Homo sapiens: one gene and its partner. The protein of the gene in region 1 purifies or fractionates together with the protein of each later gene. This does not show direct contact. Each region holds a gene or a part of one and is shown on either strand. Other genes may lie near its edges.

The links.
Region 2: the proteins of DNAJC13 (region 1) and ATP6V1A purify together in Homo sapiens (co-immunoprecipitation; 2 studies listed by BioGRID and IntAct, with this or other methods). This does not show direct contact.

The regions. Positions count from the first base shown.
Region 1 is NC_000003.12:132,411,475-132,421,791, forward strand, and holds the start of DNAJC13 (dnaJ homolog subfamily C member 13), read left to right. Parts: upstream 1-6,027; 5' UTR 6,028-6,286; exon of another isoform or gene 6,287-10,243; intron 10,244-10,317.
Region 2 is NC_000003.12:113,790,543-113,799,986, reverse strand, and holds part of ATP6V1A (V-type proton ATPase catalytic subunit A), read right to left. Parts: intron 5,116-9,444; coding exon 4,993-5,115; intron 4,898-4,992; coding exon 4,783-4,897; intron 4,112-4,782; coding exon 4,048-4,111; intron 1,745-4,047; coding exon 1,541-1,744; intron 1-1,540. UniProt on the Homo sapiens protein: Catalytic subunit of the V1 complex of vacuolar(H+)-ATPase (V-ATPase), a multisubunit enzyme composed of a peripheral complex (V1) that hydrolyzes ATP and a membrane integral complex (V0) that translocates protons.

The DNA of each region.
Region 1 (10,317 bases):
GGCAGATTAGGAATAGACCCAAAGTAACTTTAACATTTGCAGTGACTAGTATATGTGAGTTTCTTCTATATTAGTAAGATTTTTTTCAAATTGGCTTTGTTAGTATGTGCTTTTTATTTTGGTTTACATTGATTTACTTTTTTTTTTCTCAGACTTCACTGTATAGATTTGAGAACCAATAACTTTACAAGCTAATTAGTTGAGCTTGAAATACTACTTCTTTTATGTTTTATTTTCCTTTACGCTAAGTAGGTGGCTGCCACCTCATTTACTGTTGCTCACAAAAAGAAAAAAAAATCATCTTTTCATTGACAAAATTAAGTTTTACATGGAAATAACAGTCATATCATCTTTATATGCTCAAAGCCAGCAATAATTTGGGTAATGAAGTTTTATGTTCTCAGATAGGCATAATATGAATAAGTTATTATCCAAGATTAATGAATAGATATCCTTTCCTTCTATGTGGTTGCAATGATCTTTAACAAAATTAGTGGGAAAAAAAAGCTTTTGTTGCACCTGATTAACTCACCTTGATTTAGGCGTGAATGAGTCATTGTCATTCTAAGAACTTCCTCATGGTCAAGTTTTGGATCACCATTTTTAAAATATATTGTGACTGTCGAAATTCCATGCATGTAAGACTTTTTTGCATTGTTAACATTCACAGATGAATTGAACAAGTCAACTCTGTGTTCTCCATAATAAATAAAATGAACTATTTAATGATGTCTCATGATAGGAGTATTCAAATATGGTTGTCAAGAATGAACACTTGAACTTTCCCCATTCTGCTAATAATACAGAATATCTGCTTATCTGACATTCTGTATTATTAGCATCTGGTTAGTCCTCTGATGATAACTACAGCAAACCTGTTTCATTTAAAAACGCAAGGACAAGGATTACATAAAGAAGCTGGAGACCCTGATATTAACTATAGTGTGTGCTCAGTAATGAACTGCTCTATATAAGTTATTATCTGTATTATCTTCATCTGGTTAGTCCTCTGATGATAAGAACTACAGCAAACCTGTTTCATTTAAAAACTCAAAGACAAGGATTACATAAACAAGCTGGAGACCCTGATATTAACTATAGTGTGTGCTCAGTAATGAAGTGCTCTACATAAGTTATGTAACTCCTGCAAATGTCTCTCAAGGTAGGTATCAATATCTGAAGTTTACAGAAGAGGGAACTAAGACTCAAAGAGGATAACGAACTTGCCTGTGAGTTTTTTAAACTACATTATATTTCCTTCAAGTGCTGATGACTAAAAATGTCTGAATATAATAATTTCATAGCAGATTGGAAATCTTGTTCACTTCAAAACCCTTTATGGAAAAAACCACATAAGGTTCTTGAGTTTTCTCAAATCTGATAATACAAGAAGTATTTGAATTAATTAGTAAGAACACCTGAATTAGAAAACCCTCAGCAGTGTATATATTGTAAAAGAGCAGTTGTGGTAAAATTTAATAAGGAAAAAGAACACAGGCCTTTTTCTTAACCAGTTAAAATTTCAATAATAGTTTAAAATTGTTAGACCACAGAATAAGTTATTTTCTTTTCCCTCCTCATCCATCTTTGAAAATATAATCAAATCTAGATAATTTCCTGTAATTAAATGAAAGCATGTTTTTGTTAATAAAATATTATAAATTCAAAATCCTTTATATATGAACATCATTATACTATTTAAAAAGATATTTTAATTCACATTAATAATAAAACTAGACTTCCTGGGGTAGGATTAAGTGAGCTGGGGAAGCCAGGCTATCAGTTACAAAAAAAAAAAATTGTGGATCCTATATATATATACAGATACATATGTATATATGTCAAGAAATTCTCATGTCATAATTTGTCATATGTTGTAAATAATTTCAATTATTTGAATTACAGTATAGAGAAACACAGAAAACTAAATACGTGTGGCCAGATAAATCTTGAGAAAAACCACTAAAGACAAACAACCAACCAATCACATAACAAATTAAAATGAAGTCCAGTAGAAGATTCTGTGGAAGCTTCAAGCTCACCAACTCGACGTAGTTGTTTTCTGACACTTACTGTTTGCTTGCACAAGATTTTCTAATAGCAGTATTGTCCAAGAGAAATACAATGGGAGCCATATATTTAATTTTACATTTACTAGTAGCTACATTCCTTAAAAGAAACAAGTGAAATTAATTTTAATAACATTTTATTTAACCAAATATACAGCCATAATATTATCATTTCCACATGTGACAAAGAGTCTTTGCTCAGCCAAATTTTAATCAGGCTTCTGAACCTTTCCTTAGGCCCCTCTGTGTGCTTCCTTGAAAAGTCTAGTCTGCAAAAGAACCTGGCTAAGTCAGTTTAGCCAAAATTCCCTCGATATGTGATCAGATTCCTCATCTTTCACCTTCCCCCAGAAGATGTCTAATCACTCTGGCCTGTCTTTAGCAAGAATCCTGTTACGTAGGTTTAGCCAGGATCCCCGCTCACCCCTGATGTTTTCTCTTAGTAATTTTCCATCCACTGACCCCCACACACTGTTCCTTGGAGATAAATGCATACTTGCCCGTGTCGTTTTCCGACCTGAGCCCCGTCTCTCTCCCTTACTGCAAGCCCCTGTTGCAGTGGCTCCTGTACCTATTGTAATGATCGTAAATAAACTGAATAAAATCTTTTTTGTGGGGAGCAGGGGGTACAGGGTCTTTCTCTGCTGCCCAGGCAGGAGTGCAGTGGCACAATTATAGCTCACTGTAACCTCGAACTCCTGGGCTCAAGAGATCCTCTCACCTCAGCCTCCTGAGTAACTAGCACTACAGGGGCATGCCCCCATGCCCAGATAATGCTTTTATTTTTATTATTTTGTAGCAATGGGGTCCCACTACATTGCATAGGCTGGTCTCAAACTCCTGGCCTCAAGTGATCCTCCTGACTTGGCCTCCCAAAGCCTTGGGATTACAGGTGTCAGCCATCATGCTCAGCCTATTACCAAGCTTTAACAAGTATCATTAAATAATACTTTTTTTTTTTTTGAGAGTTTCACTCTTGTTGCCCAGGCTGGAGTGCAGTGGCACCATCTCGGCTCACTGCAACCTCCCCCTCCCAGGTTCAAGTGATTCTCCTGCCTCAGCATCCCGAATAGCTGGGATTACAGGTATGCACCACCAGGCCCGCCTAATTTTTTTATATTTAGTAGAGACGGGGTTTCATCATGTTGGCCAAGCTGGTCTCAAACTCCTGACCTCAGGTGATCCACCCGCCTCAGCCTCCCAAAGTGCTGGGACTACAGGCGTGAGCCACCGTGCCCGGCCTAAATATTTTTTTCTTTTAACACGTGTAATCAATATAAAAATTGCTAATGCAACATTTTACATTTTTTTGTAACAATTTTAATTTTTATTCTGTGTTCAGTAGCCACATAGGGCTAGTGGCTACTGTACTGAAAACATAGTTCAAGCATTGTTGAGTGGTATGAGTTCTTAAGGATTTACTTTGGATCTGGGCATTGATATAATTAGGAAGGTCAATTTAGCAGCAATGGGAATTAGATAAGCAAGTGTTTGACATTCTTGTGGGCTCTCTAAAGTCTTAGATCACTCCAGCCTTGTATGCTAACTTTGGAGACTGATAAAGGCTATTGGTGCCTAAAAGGCTGTGAAATGTATTTTTTAAAAAGCTGTGAAATATTTTAAGTGTACATCACATAATTTAGATTGTAAATTTGATACATCTGCACTATGAAAGTGTCAGAAACGCTAGTGCAAACTTTAATTATGAATAAAAAGACAAATCCAGAAAAAGAAGTGTGCATTTGTCACTCTTAAAAAAGAGTTGGGTGGGGAAAGGATCCAACTGATTTAACCTAATAGGGAAAGAAGAGACAAGTCCTACTCTCCCTGACTCTTGTATTTTGTTGTGGCATTTTAAGAAGGATCCAATTGTATGGATCCAATTAAAAGCAACCAGTGGTTGTGAAAAGGCTTGAAACTACATCTTGTGAACAATGGTTGAAAGTACTTTGAATATGGTTTCTTAAAATGAGTATCTGTAGCAGGGGTAGTTAGAAGGATATGCACGGGAGAGGGAGTGGGAAAGGGTGATAAGCTGTACTGATAAGTGCTTAAATGAATGTCACATACAAGAAGAAAAGAGCAAGAAACAAAGACAAAATAACTACTCATAGAAGAGAGTGCAAGTTGGCTGAATACAAGGAAAATGGCTTATAAAAATGCAATGGAAAAAGATGTCTTGTGAGGCAATTTTGCACTACAGAGGATGGGGACAATTCATGATGCCTAAGGCTCCTCTCAACACGAGAATTGATTTTATTGGTCTCAAATATTGAACAGAGAGGCAGTGTGGAGGTTGAACAGTTCACTGGCCTTGATGTTACAGGCAGGCCCTGTGTCTTAATCTTGGCTCAACCTTTAGGAGTTAGGTCACCTTTAGCAAGTCTCCTGGACTCTCTGGGTCTGCTGCTTCTCTAAAATCGAAATAATATACCCCACATTTACTTTTGGGATTACTGGAAGGCTTTGTAACCACATAAACACGTTTCTGTTTCCATGGGATAAGCCAATAAGGCCCCTTAACACAGCCCTCCTGTTTCTTTTTCCTCCTCCTCCCTTCCTACTCTATTTCGGGTTCTGTCTTCCCACACCCAGCTATTCCTAGTACCTTCCCTTACATGCACCTTATCTTACTGCTGCATTACAGAAAAGTCTAAGGATAAACACAAATAGTCTTTTTCCGCCCTAAGGTAGGGCAAAGGGTTAATAGAATCAAGAGGTAAAGTCTGTAAAAACCATTTTTCCACATTTTTTCATCCTGCAATCGCTGTCTATAAAATGAGCCAACTTGCTGAAGGGGACGCCAAGAAATCACAATTTCAGGACTGCCATGAAGAATGAGTATTCAACTCCTTATCAGAGACCTTTAACCCTTATACAATAATGTATCCATGCAGGTCACCCTACACTGCCTCTACTCTGAAGTCTGCAGCAGAATCACTATTTTTTTTTTAATCACTAATTTTTAAACTGTGGTCTTTACGGCTCAGATCTGGGAGTGGACATTGACCTTTCTTATTTAAACCATTGCCCACAGATAACACATAATTTCTAGCCGAATCCTTTAGTCCCAATATCCCCTCTTTTCACTGCCCTGACTTCCCTCTCAGGTGAGGTTCAGGAAGATGGTTATCTAGAGGGCACAGGTTCTGGGTTCAAATTACTTGGGTGCAAACATGAAATCCACTACTCTGAGGCTGGGCCTCAACTTATCTGCAAAACGAGGATGATTCGTATCTCAGAGAGTTGAAGATTAAGCAGCTTTAAGTAAACTTCTAAACACTTGATCCGGACACAATAAATGGGGCTACCAGAACTATCTTTCCAGCATTCCCACCTGCAAATGCCTTAGGCGTCTCTGAGAATTTGGTCTCTGAGACCTTCCAGAGCATCCATAACTTAAACCCTGCTCTGCTGTCGTTCAGGACGTCTCAATAGTAAATGAACCTGCTGGCTCCCAATCCAGCCAAACCAGGAGATAGGCTGAGGCTTCAGACTGCCTCGCAGATGCTCCATGGCACTTGACGGCAAGAGCTAAAAAGAGGTGATTTAAAACAAGATTTCCTCGGACTTAAAGCTTAAGTACCGGGTTGCGACCCTACTCTCCGCAGGACATAAGCGGAGGGGCGCGGCCCTAAGGCACACGCCGGAGGGGCGTGGTCATGGGCACCCGCCGGAGGGGCGTGGTCATGGGCACCCGCGCGCGCCCAGGGGCGTGTCCTTTTCAGCACCCACCGAGGCGCCAGCCCCCTGACGCGCTGCGTGGAATCCAAATCCCACGGCCGGTGTCGTTACTCTGCGCATGTGTAGCTGCTGGGGGCTGGCCGGAGGAAAGCAGAATTTCAGGGAAAGAACGATCGGGACGGGGAGGACGGGGAGGGCGGGGCAGAAGACGGAAGAGTTGAAATCAGCTGACTGGGTCTCGTGACAGCCTGGGCGGTGGCGACGCAGGCGTATTAGAGCGCGCTCGCTCAAAGCCTGAGCGAAGATGGCGGCCTCCAGAGTGAAACTCTGAGAGGCAGAGGGAGGAGGCGGAGGGGGCGGGGAGGCAGCGCCGCGGCGGCACCAGGAACCCGCGGCAGCGGAGCTGCAGGGCCCCGGCGGGGGAAAGGGGAAGTGGTGAGGGTGAGGAGGCCGGAGGGCGCCTCATCCCACTCTGGAAGCTGAGCCGGCGGCGGGAGGAGCTAGGGCTGGAGCCTCTCCAGCCTCCCGCGAAGGTAAAGCCGACTCCGGGCACTGGGCTCTGGGGCTCTGCCTTACTCCCTTCCCACGCCGTGGGGACTTTGTGGGGCTCAGGGCAGGGAAAACGGGGTGGTCTTGGCTGCTGCAGCCTGCAGCTGCTAAGGAAGCAGATTACCCTTCCCCCAGGCTGCTGGTCTGGTTCCTTTCGTTGGACGCCCCCCCGGCTTTGAGTGACATTAGCTCAGGGCGCTGCCCTGTCCAGCCCCACCCCTTTTTTTTGCTTGTTTTATACCTAGTACGCTCCTCCACTCGCCTTAACATATCCTTACCCCACAGGCTCTTCATTCCCTTGTGGGTTCCGCCCTCGGGATTCCCTTCCAGTCTCCTAGTCTGAGCACCCTTCCTGCTGGATGCCGGCAACTCTTGTTTCCTTGGGTCAGCGACCCTCCTTCCGAACAAGTCCTGCAGACTGACTTTCTTTGCTTTGTTTCGTTTTGTTAGGAAATGAGCATCCGCGTCGTCTGTTCTCCAGTACTTTTTCTAAAATCATTTTCTCCCCTAAGGCTTTTCCTTCCTGCAAGGCAGCTTATTCACGTGGCCTTTCCTCCGCTGCTGTGATTTTATCTTTGAATGTGGCCTTTGGAGTGGGTAAAGTAGGACTTAGACGCTCAGTGAAGTGGCTGTTAATCACTTGATACTTAACTATGTTTAAGAGTGCCTTCCCTTAAATTTTCTCCTTTTGTAGCGTGTTCCGTTAACCACGTTTGTCTTAAGATTGTTTCCTGTGTCCGTTGCTTAGAGGGGGGAAAAAAGTAAAGATTTCACCCTAATGTGGCGGTGGTCTCCCAAAGTAATTATTTCTCATTTTCCCTCTGCTTTTCCCTTTTACGTTATTCTGATTTCCCTCAAAAAGGAGGTTCTGTACCTGATGCTGTTGCGTCCTCTATGAAGGGCTTTATAGTGTACAGTTATGTTGAGCCTTTTGTAATACAGTGTCTTGGGGAAAAAAGTAGAAGTTCAGAACCTGCCCCCAGTAATTCTTTCTTACTATATTTTCTTTCTCAGTTTATGGACTTGATAGGTTTCTAGGTTTGAAACTACTGCCTGCAGGGAAAATTACAGTGATAAGGTTTTATAATATATTACCAGTACTTTGAGTTTATGGGAGTATGAAACAGAATTTGCCTTAAAAAAATAAATTTATAGAAACCACTTGTCAGAAATTCGGTATCCAGAACACAGTTCTTTGATTTTTGGAAAGTACTTTATTGGCTTATCTATCATATAACGTAAAACCTTGTTCACATTTTGTGTAATGTGAAACGCTTTTTAAGCTACTATATCTCAGACTTGGCTTGTGCTGTTAGTATCACAATGCATTCAGGCAACACACGTCCTTGTGTAGAAATTATTACATTATACTCCTTGTTTGAAAACAGGAAGTAGAACATATTAAGGGAGGAAAAGAGGAGTCAGAGGATTATTAAGAAATAAGAATGTAAAGAACCTTAAGGCTAGAGTTCAGTTCATGGAAAATATCAGCATTTGTATTCCACTGAGAGGCAATGAATATTCCTCTTTTTCTAAAGTGGTAGTAATAAATAGTCTAAAATATATTAATGTTATATATTGTTAACAAGCTTAGTTGTAAACAAAATACTTAAGCTAAAAAATAAAATATTAATAAGTGAATGAATTGTTTGGAATAATTTAACTTTATCCACAAATAAATAGAAGATGGTTGCCTTGCCCAGGTGGACTGTAACAATACTGGCTTTATTAAATTTGTTAAAAGGTTGATAGTGGAGTCCGGTTCTCAATAGGTCCCAAATTAGGGTTGAAATTGAAAAGATGTGTTTTAACTAATTTGGCTTCATTCCTCAACCAGTTCTGTTTACACAGGTGAATATGAGGTTTCTGCTACACATACCTTTCCCCTGCTTCTGATTGAGGTACTTTAAATTAGTAATTGAAACAAGGCTGTGCAGATAAACTGCAGCACAAATTTGGTTGCTACAAATAGGTTTTGGCCTAAATGTTCACTGTAAAACATGGCAGTAGTTAAAGGGGAGTTATTAATATTTTGAAAGAGTTCCTTGAGTCAGTGTTTCTCAACTTTATTAGACCCAATAAAGGCTCCCTTTTTATAAAAAATAATTAGTAACACCTTCTTTGCTATCTTTAGTTTATAAATAATGTAACTACCTCTGGCTTTGGCCCTGAGACAAAAAAAGAAGCTTTGCTCTCACTTCTGCAACAAAAAAAGACCTACACTACAAATTCATGACTTTTTTGAAATCTATTAAAGAGCTGAGTCCACAGAGCAAAACCACTGGCTGAAAATTTGAGAGACAGTGCTTACAGAGAGTAGATGTCAATTTCTGTTTACCGTCTTCAGACACAACTGGACAAAAAGCATGATGAAAGCTGAATGCACAATCTTGCAAACTCTTATCCACAAACCTCCCTGGGTCTACTAGAAAAGACTGGAAAGAACCCTGGGTGAGTCTGCTGTGCAGATTGAGAGGGAGAGGAACAGCAACAGAACTTTTAAGAGGGTCAAGAAACTGCTGTGATTCTTCCCCTCTGCCTCTTCTATGGAAAAAAGCTTTAATCTCTGGGGAGAAGGGTATCTCTGTTGGCCCCATTGGTGAACATTCAGGGGGTAGATGAGAAGTGGGAGAGAATCTTATGCCTGGAGGAGGGGCCCTGAGCCCAAAACTGCAGTCGGGAGTGGTCAACAGAACCGAGAGTGCTGCCCTCCTGAGATTCAGGAACACAGTGTTTGACTTAGACTTAATCAGAACATCAGACTGTATCCCCCACCCCCAACCCCCTGCCACCAAGCTAAGAAGCTTTCAGTAACAAGTAACCCACAAAATACTACTAGGAAAGGAACAAGATTATGCAAAGAGGCACAACACAAAGAATCAAACAGGCATTGCTCTAGTAAACCATCGCCCACCAGAGAGACAAACTGTTCTGCAGATTCATGAAGGCTGTAATACACTGAGGATAACTATGGCAAAAACAAATCATAAACTAAGTCCAACTCCTAACCAGATTAACACAAACCCTTCACCAAAGGCCTCACAAAGAACAGGCGTGCTCATTTCCAGTCATAAAAATTACCTCAATCTCTACTCCTACACAACATGTCCAGCTTTTAACCAAAAATTATGAGGCCCATGAAAAAAACTCCCAAGAGAAAGAGCAGTCATCATTATACATTTTTTAAAAAGATAGGAGCTTAAAAAGAACTGTTTTGTACATGTTAAATACTATAATAATGACATTTTGCCTTGAAAAAGTTTGAGCAAACAATGCAGTGAGCATTGGATGGAGTTATAGTTTCTGAATTACTGTGAAGTAGTAGAAGGAAAAAAAGTTATAAGATGGAGTGGAAAATTAGTAACATATATGTGAATGTATGTGGTTCATTGACCACCTGAAGTGTGTGTGTGTATTTTGTGAATTCCTGCATGACTCAGTTGGGTACAATTTTCTGCGTTCACTTAGTGTTGGGACAGAATCACTATAAGCAAATGTGACATTTTCATTATGCTCAAATTGTTCAGTAATACACCAATCCTGTTAAAATTCACATGATCAAGAAAGCATTATAGCAGAATTGACTATATGCATTTCAATATGTAAATAGTTAAGTATGATTATACCAAAATACACAAAGGACGTGTCAGAGGCTTGTATCTTTACATGGAATCATTTTGAGATTTTTTTTGTGTGTGTGAGAGACAATCTTGCTCTGTCACCCAGGCTGGAGTGCAGTGGCACGATCTTGGCTCACTGCAACCTCTGCCTCAGCCTCCTGAGTAGCTGGGACTACAGGCGCTTGCCACCATGCTGGGCTGATTTTTTTTTTTTTCTGTATTTTTAGGAGACAGAGTTTCACCATGTTGCCCAGGCTGGTCTCGAACTCCTGACCTCAAGTGATCCACCCACCCAGGCCTCCCAAAGTGCTGGGATTACAGGTGTGAGCCACCATGCCTGGCCCATTTTGATTTTTGACAGAAATGTTGATGTCTACAGATTTGTCACATTGGTG
Region 2 (9,444 bases), about 19 Mb from region 1:
GTGCTGGGATTACAAGTGTGAGCCACCACGCCTGGCTGAGAAGTGGCGTCTTTTTAATAAGTCATTCCGTCCAAGAGCATGGACTGTTTCTATTTTCATATCATCTTCTGTTTCATTTATTAGTTTAAAAGTGGTTTTCATAGAAGAAATATATATTTCTGGTTAGTTCCTACACTCTAGTTTTTGTTGCTATTGAGAACATCTTATTTTTACTTTTATTTTCTAGTTGGTACTGCTAGTGTAGAGACATTCTCTTGATCTGTGTTTATCTTGAATCATAACACCCCAGTGAACTCTTATTATTTGTTTCTCTGTTAATTCTGTTATATTTCTAGTATATGAGCATATTATCTACAAACAATGACACTGTTATCTCTTTCTTTGCAACTTTTCTTTTTTCTCTTCTTACATCATTGGTTATGATCTCTGGTATTTGACAGAACACAGTGATGAGATTAGGCATGCTGGTCTTAATCCTAGTTTTTAAATGAAATGCATCTGAAATTTCTCCAGTAAGTAAAGTGGTTTCCCTAGGTCTTAGTATATTACTTTTAACACATTAAGGAAGTTCCGTTCTATTCCTTGTTTGCTAAGATGTTTCTAAAAATTGTAATAAACTTCAAATATTTTTCCACATTAACTGAGATATCCTTTTTCCATTGTATTATTACATTAGTGAATTACAATAGATTTTCTGTGTCTAATATGGACATTCCTGAGATAAACTTGCTTATGATGTATCATTTTATTTTCTTTAATATCCTACTAGACCTCATACACTAATATTTAATATTTTATTAAGTATCTACATTCATACCTACATTCATCAACAATATTAGCCTATAGTTTTCCTTTCTTGTATTGTCTTTATCTGGTTTTGCAGTTCTTCCTGTTTCTTGCTTCTCTTATTGGGCAGATAAGAGAATATTTTTATTCTATAAATAGTAAGTAGTAATACATGTTAGAATGTTAGCTATCTCCTAATATTAACCTTTTTTGGAATAAATTAGGAGATGACTTTGTAACATGTAATAAAAAGAACAAAACCAGACAAAGAACTCTGAGTACTAACTAGCATTGCATACTATCTGAGAAGTCTTTTCATTCTGGCATTTAATTTGCCTAAATTTAATTACACCATCTTTCCTTGAAGAATCCAAGATACAGGCACAAGAATGTAACTCACCTGTTTAAGGCCAATAGCTAATTATTGGAGGAACTAGAAGCCAATCCTTCTGAAACCTAGCCCTAGCATTCCTACAAAAATGTATGCTAACAAATCCTAAATCTACTACCTCTAATTTGGTTGGTGATGGGTATATTCCATTTCAAGATAAAAGTAAATCAAATGTTTCTTTCTCACATACAATATACCCAAAAACCATGCTAAGTACTATAATGAATAGAAAATTTCAATTAAAAATATTTAATAAATATTTATTTTGCTAGGCAAGAATCTGTAATATCCAAGGCTCTATCTGTCCTTGAAACACCCCAGTGTAACCCACAGATCTATCTTCCATGGAATTTAACAACTCACCTTTCCCACAAGCTGTACAATTTCTGCCAGGTCTTCTTCTTCCTGCAGAATTTCCTTAGCTTTCGTCCTCAGAGGAACGAACTCTGTGAAGTGTTTGTCATAGTATTCATCCAAGGCACGCATATACTTGCTGTAGCTGATGAGCCAATTGACAGAGGGGAAATGCTTACGTTGAGCTAGTTTCTTATCTAAGCCCCAGAACACCTGATTAAAAAAAACACACACACAAAAACAGTAATTTTTCTCAAAAAACAAAGTTAAAAAATACCGAAGCATGTTTGTCCCAACTATGCAATTCTTTTTTTTTTGTTTTTGAGACAGAGGCTTGCTCTGTCACCCAGGCTGGAGTGCAGTGGCATGATCTCGGCTCACTACAACCTCCACCTCATGGGTTCAAACAATTCTCCTGACTCAGCCTCACCAGTAGCTGGGATTACAAGCATGCGCCATCAGGCCCGGCTAATTTTTGTACTTTTAGTAGAGATGGGGTTTCACCATGTTGGCTAGGCTTGTCTCGAACTCCTGACCTCATGTGATCCCTGGCCTCCCAAAGTGCTGGAATTACAGGCATGAGCCACCATGCCTGACCCCTAAATATGCAATTCTACAATTCACTGGTCAAATTATACATCGTTTTAGTATATACTAAGTAAAATTAAAACAGAATAAAACTTGCAGAAAATGACAATAATCTATTTCCTTTCATTTTCCAAGTGCATAATACCTACAAATCGAATTTAAAATTTACCTCTATTTTCTTAATACTGTGCCAAATCCAAAAGCAAAAAGAAAAATTAATTTACTCTTTTGAAAATTATTATGGTACAATAGAACCAGAAAAGGTTTATGTAGATCGAATACACACTTTACTTTGATTAAAAACCTCTAACTGGCCAGGCATGGTGGCTCACGCCTGTAATCCTAGCACTCTGGGAGGCTGAGGCAGGTGGATCACCTGAGGTCAGGAGTTCGAGACCAGCCTGGCCAACATGGCAAAACCCTGTCTGTACTAAAATACAAAAATTATCCGGGCGTGGTGGTGGCGCATGCCTGTAATGCCAGCTTACTTGGGAGGCTGAGGAGGAAGAATTGCTTGAACCCGGAAGATGAAGGTTGCAGTGAGCTGAGATCACGCCACTGCACTCCAGCCTGCATGATGGGGGTGAGATTCCATCTCAAAAAAAAAAAAATTTTTTTTTTAACTGTTCTGGGCCAGGCATGGTGGCTCACGCTTGTAATCCCTGCACTTTGGGAGGCTGAGGCGGGTGGATCACCTGAGGTCAGGAGTTCAAGACCAGCCTGGCCAACATAGTGAAATATTGTCTCTATTAAAAACACAAAAAATTAGCCAGGTGTGGTGGCGGGTGCCTATAATCCCACCTACTTGGGAGGCTGAGGCAGGAGAATCACTTGAACCCGGGAGGTGGAGGTTGCAGTGAGCTAAGTTTGTGCCATTGCACTCCAGCCTGGGCAACAAGAGTGAAACTCCGTATCAAAACAAACAAAACAAAAACATCTAAGTGTTTTGATTAAATTTAGTTGCCTATCATTCACAGGGCCAATCCAACAACAACTGACAGTGATTTTTGTAAGGGCAAACATTCACAGATATTCCATGCATTTCTAACTCTGTTCCCTCTTTCCCCATAATTTAAAACTCAAAATTTTAGCAAACGTTAAAAAGCTTGAGAGTTGTACATTTAGCCTCTGACATTTCCTTTTCTCTGATACTGTCAGAAACACAAGTAAATATTCTGTTTTTCCCACATGAATAATATACACATATCACTTTTTTTTTTTAACTATAGCTCTGATTTGTACACATCTTTTATTTGGGCTTCTTTTAATAGCCAAGCTGGCTACCTATCCACTAAAATTCATGTCTTGTCACTGGAAAGCAAATGCTTAGGCAGAAACTGCATTTTCCAGCCTTGCTTTCACCTGGATGTGGCTAATAGAATGAGTGGAGTGACTGTGTCACTTTTGAATCCAAGGTTCAAAAAAGGTGGGTATGCCTTCTCCACAAGGCCCAGCTCCCTTGTGTCAGCTAGATGCAGATGATCACCAGGCTAGGTGACAGTGGAGTCACAAGATGGAAAGAATCCTGGACTCAGAATTATCACTAAACAGAAGAGAGCCTTGGATCATACTGTGAAGTGAAATAACTTCTGGGTATTACACATTTTTGGGCCTCTTTGTTTCTATAACTAGGGTTACTATGACTTAAAGGATAATACTACTCTAATACTAATAAAATTTTTGCTACCTATATTTTCCACTTATATATTATTAAGTTTATTATAAATCCTATGTAAACAGCTAAGAAAAAAACAGACAGTATTAAAGGCTCTGTGTTAAGAGTGTTTCTAAACCAGACTTTACCATTGCCTATCCTTTAGAGACTAAATTAAATACTTCACAACGATTACATTAGATCGCATTAGAACAGCAGGGGCTGCAGAGAGGAGGAAAGGCTCAGAAGTTGACTATACTAGGGAAAGACATACCTGAACGATACCAAGAGTGGCAGATGTAACTGGATCAGAAAAATCACCACCAGGTGGAGAAACTCTAAATTTAAAAAAAATATGGTCATTACAAAAAAAATGGTCATTAGAAATGCTTATGAAAAATAACATATATATAAATGTTAACTTTTTTTAAAGTCGATTTTAATGTAAATAACTTTTTAATGTAAATAACTTTAGAAATGACCTTTGGAAAGAAAATCTTACCTAAAAATCTTAAACAAAAGCCAGTATTTAAGTTGTAAACAACAATAGAAACTACAGAACACCTTCTATTATGAGACATGAGATAGATATTTTATTATAATCAATTTTATTATTCTAATCAAATAGATGAAGCAAGGAGGAAACGCTCTAAGAAAAAAGTATGGCTTTATGTAGTGATCACGAATCTTCACTTTCTTTTTACCGTGATGCAATCTCACCTTATTATGTCTATAATTTTCTAAATTATAAAAATTAAATAAATATCTAAATTAAACATATAAATATATAAATTAAAGTCAAACCTATGGAACCAGGACATGTAGAAATTGCCTAAACATGTGCATCTTCAAAGAGCTCCTTAGGTGACTCTGGAGTGCAACCCTCCTTAAGAACCGCTGCTCCCAGCGGGAGCTAAATATTCTCTCTTTAAAATAAGTGACTTTTTTTCTCTCTTTAATACATCTGTGACTTTTTTCCTTTTGCAAAGTAAATAGTGTGGGTGCTTACGCTCCTACAATGCTGACACTCCCTTCTCTTTCAGGATTTCCAAGACATTTCACCCTGCCTGCTCGTTCATAAAACGAGGCCAGACGGGCACCAAGATAGGCTGGATATCCACTATCTGAAAAATGAAAAGAAATTTTAAAACAGAGTTTCTAAGCCAGCCCCGAAAATCCCATCAGTCTTGTTTACATGATAAGCAATACACAGACTTACCTGCAGGCATTTCAGCTAAACGACCAGAGATTTCTCTAAGGGCCTCAGCCCATCTAGAGGTAGAGTCAGCCATCATACTGACATGATAGCCCATGTCACGGAAGTACTCTGACAGTGTGATTCCTAAATTGGGAAGAATATTATTATAAGTTACAATGCTAGCATATAAAAATCCTGTTTTTTTCCACCCTTAAGAAAACCTTAAAGCAATAAGTACACAACGTAGACTGCTAGTGGCTCCCTCAAAGCTGCTCTTCCTCTTTTTCTGGGCACACACTGAATTGTTTCCTAGCATCCTGTGCACTTAGATATGGCCATGTAACTGATCTCTGGCTAACAAAACTCAAGTCAAAATAATGTGTTCTACGGTCAGGCAAGTCACACGCTCTTCCATACTCTTTCTTCCTTCTGGCCTACTGAAATGGAAAGAACTCCCAGTAGTCTTGGAAGCCATGTGTTGAAAATGGTAGAGCTCATTTCAGGCTGGATCATGGCTCAGAATGACAGAGTAAAGAGTGCCCTGAACACTTGAAATAAACATCTATTATATTGAGCAAATATATATTTGGAATTATTTGATGCCATAGCCTAGCTGGCCCTAATATAATGCACATTTTAGAAAGCAGGAAATGACTTTCTCTATTCTTTGTTGAAATAATTAAGTCTGAAATTAATTTTCAAATGTAGCTTCTCTCTATATATCACATACACACACACAAACATGTATGCATGCAAAAGTAACCCTTAACCAATCAGCTTGGGTGGTTACTTTTCAAAAGTAGCAAATGTTATTAAAATGAGTAATATCTTAATTGTCCAGATTATTCTGCTATGCAGATCAGGTCCTATCCTGTAAATTTAGACAGTAAACCACTTATAAGCAGCTAATATACAGAAACGAGTGTTGGGTTCTAGTTCCTATTCTGTCATTAACCTTAGCAAAATAACTTGATTTCCCAGTGTGGCTTCCTAACCTATTAAAAATGGAATAACGCCTGCCCTATATACTTGTATATATGGCAGATGAAGTGAATTAAATAAATGTCATCTAAAAAGTACAAAGCGCTATGAAACACTAAGATATTAGGAAAAATATATAGTTATATTATAAAAGTTCCAAAAGATTTTGGAACTTTTATAATGCCTTGGTTTTTTTATTTTACTGGTAAAGAAACAGAGGTTTATATAAGTAAAATTAACATAATTAGTGGAAAATTCAGTACTTTCCTATTTATCATATTGCATCTTTCAGAATAAAAAATACTGACTGTTCAGGCATCCATAAAATGGTCTCATGAAGAAAGTCTTTAGGAAACATTACTTATCAATATTAAGGCTTCAACAACACAATAATTACCACATATTCCAATCTAATAAGAACAGATTCTTTCTTATACAAGCATGCTGTGTTTTAAATCTGTGATGAAATGTCACAGATACTTGTGATATTAGAAAGAAATGGCAGAAAAGACAGATACATATGAGTAAGTGAGAATTCTCTGACAGACCTACAGGTATCAGTGCCTACAAGAAAAATATGCCTCAGACAAAATCAAGAGATAAACAAGCTGGGACATATTTGCAACTCATGACAGATAAAGGACGAATTTATTCATTAATCAAAGAGTTTCTGGCCAGGCGCGGTGGCTCAAGCCTGTAATCCCAGCACTTTGGGAGGCCAAGGTGGGCAGATCCCCCGAGGTCAGGAGTTCGAGACCAGCCTGGCCAACATGGTGAAACCCCATCTCTACTAAAAATACAAAAATTAGCCAGGTGTGGTGGTGGTGCATGCCTGTAATCCCAGCTACTCGGGAGGCTGAGGTTGTAGAACTGCTTGAATCCAGGAGGCAGAGGCTGCAGTGAGCCAAGATCGCACCACTGCATTCCAGCCTGGGTGACTGAGTGAGACTTTGTCTCAAAACCAACAAACAAACAAAAAAAAACAACAAAAAACCAAAAAGAGTTTCTAGAAATCAGTATGAAAAACAACTATCATCCAAAAGGAAAATGAACACAAGGCAGTTTTTAAATGGTTCATACACACAAGAAAGATGCTAGTTCATTGTTAAATACAGATTGAACAGGTATCTAATAAAGCAAGAATAGTTAAAATTTCAATTGTCAAATCTAAGTGCTGGGTACATGGTATTCACTGTAACATTCTTTCAACTTTTCCGTATCTTTGATAATTATCATAAGAACGTGTTGAAAAAACTAGCATTGGTGAAGATGTTGAGAAGCAGAAACTCTTGTCCACAGTTAGCCCTTTTGAAGGGCTATCAGAATGTAAAATAATAATTAGCAGCTGTATTGGCAGGAATTTTGCTTCTAAGAAATTACCCTAAGAAATGTACAAAGAGGCCAAGCATGGTGGTTCATGCCTATAATCCCAGGACTTTGGGAGGCCAAGGCAGGAGGATCTCTTGAGGCTAGAAGTTGCCCATCCTGGGCAACATAGTGAGACCCCCATCTCTACAGAAAATAAAAAAATTAGCCAGGCATGGTGGCTCATGTCTGTAGCCTCAGCTACTTGGGAGGCTGAGATGAGAGGATCCCTTGAGACCAGGAGGTCAAAGCTGCAGTGAGCCATGAACATGCCACTGCACTTCAGCCTGGGTGATAGAGCAAGACCCTGTCTCTAAGGAAAAAAAAAACATGCAAAGAAACATGCATGCAAAACATACAAAGAATAGTGTAAAAATATATGTTTAAGGATGTTTTAGTGCTGCCTATCGTAAACGACGATAAAGAATCCAATAGTCCACCAAAAAGATGCCAGTTAAATTGATTATGATATATCCATACAAAGGGATACTGTGCAGCCATTTAAAAGAATAAGGTAGCTTTCTTAAAATGGTAGATGAATATGTCACTGTCTCTTCCTCATAAAACTTACCTCCAAACAAGGAGAACAAGAAATACAGAAATACAAATTTAGTCATTAAAAACTAGGAGACATAGTCCCACAACAATATAATTTAAAAAGTCACCTAAATAAGGTGAAAACCAAATAAGGGTATGGAAAAATGCCAAGAATTCATCTGAGGCCATGCATCTCAGATAAAGCTTCTGCAAACTTGAAGGCACATCTTCAAGTGCCTTGTTTGTTTCCAAACAAAGCAAGAGTGCTTTGTTTGGAACACTGCAAAAAGCTACATGGCCAGTCGCAGGAAGGAGTTCCTTGTACTCAGTTTGGCATCAAAGAGAAGCAGGAAGATAGGGATGAATAAAACACAAGTAGGTACTCCCTATTTTCACTAAATGAAAAGTGGGTGAGACAGAGGAGAATTCACTGTGAATGGTCTTACAGCTGCTGATTTCTGGTATCAGGCAAGAAGAGTAAAATAGCTTTTTTACACAGCTGCATGCCATAATAAACTTCACAAGTTACCATGAAGAATTCCTGCTACCCTGGTACACAGTCACAGCCAGCCCTCTCATCTCCTACAAAGATGAGTAATAGTAATAATAAATATCAGTACAGGATATCTAAACAAAAATAAAATAAGGAAAAAGACAGAAGAGAAGAATACAATGATGGTCAAATAACTTGTCAAAGAATAAATGAAAACTGTGACCACAGTTAAAAAAAAAAAAAAACCCTAATAATGCAGCCTACTACAAAATAAAATCTCAAGGCATATGGAGTAAGATAAGAAGAGATACTTGATGAGCTGAAAGAACAAAAAGAAATAGAAGTGAAGGTTTCATTAGAAGCAACACAAAGAATAAATACCATTTATCCTGTGAACAGACACAAGGCTAAATAAAAAGGAGTAGAGAGGAAATGATGCACATGGAAAATAGATAACAAAAACCTAACATGTCTAGTTGGTATATTTGAAGAAGACAGCCATAATGAAAAAGTTTCAGATGCAATTTTCTAAATTTTTCCAAAATAAAAGACATATTTCATAGATGAAAAGGGCACATTATGTATCCAGAAAAATTTAATGAAACTATCAATATTGGAATATATCTTAATAAAGTTAAGAGACTTCAAATTTAAAGAGAAAGTCCTTTGGGAAAAGAGAAAAATCACCTACAAAAGGAAAAAAAGAGGCCAGCTTCAGCTTTTAATGTCCCCAGCATTTAATACTAGTTCTCACAGAAAGAAATATTGATCAAGAATTTTATACTCAGCCAAACTACTATTAAAGTTTAAAGGCAGTAGAAAAAAAATAAATTTATGAAGAAACAAGAATTCAGAGAACACAGTTGCCATAAGTCTTCTTGAAGAAACTTCCAAAAGTCAAATCTTAGCCAATCAAGAAATGGAGAAATTATAGCCAAGGGACTGTTGGTGAGCATTAACTCCATTTTAATGTAGGTCTACAGCTAATTCAAATATTGGCTTTATGGCTACAGAATAGAATGTAAGTTTTATAAATCCTGAAAATGTAGAAATAAAAGCTGGGATGGAAACGGAACCAAAGATGAAAGGTCATTAAC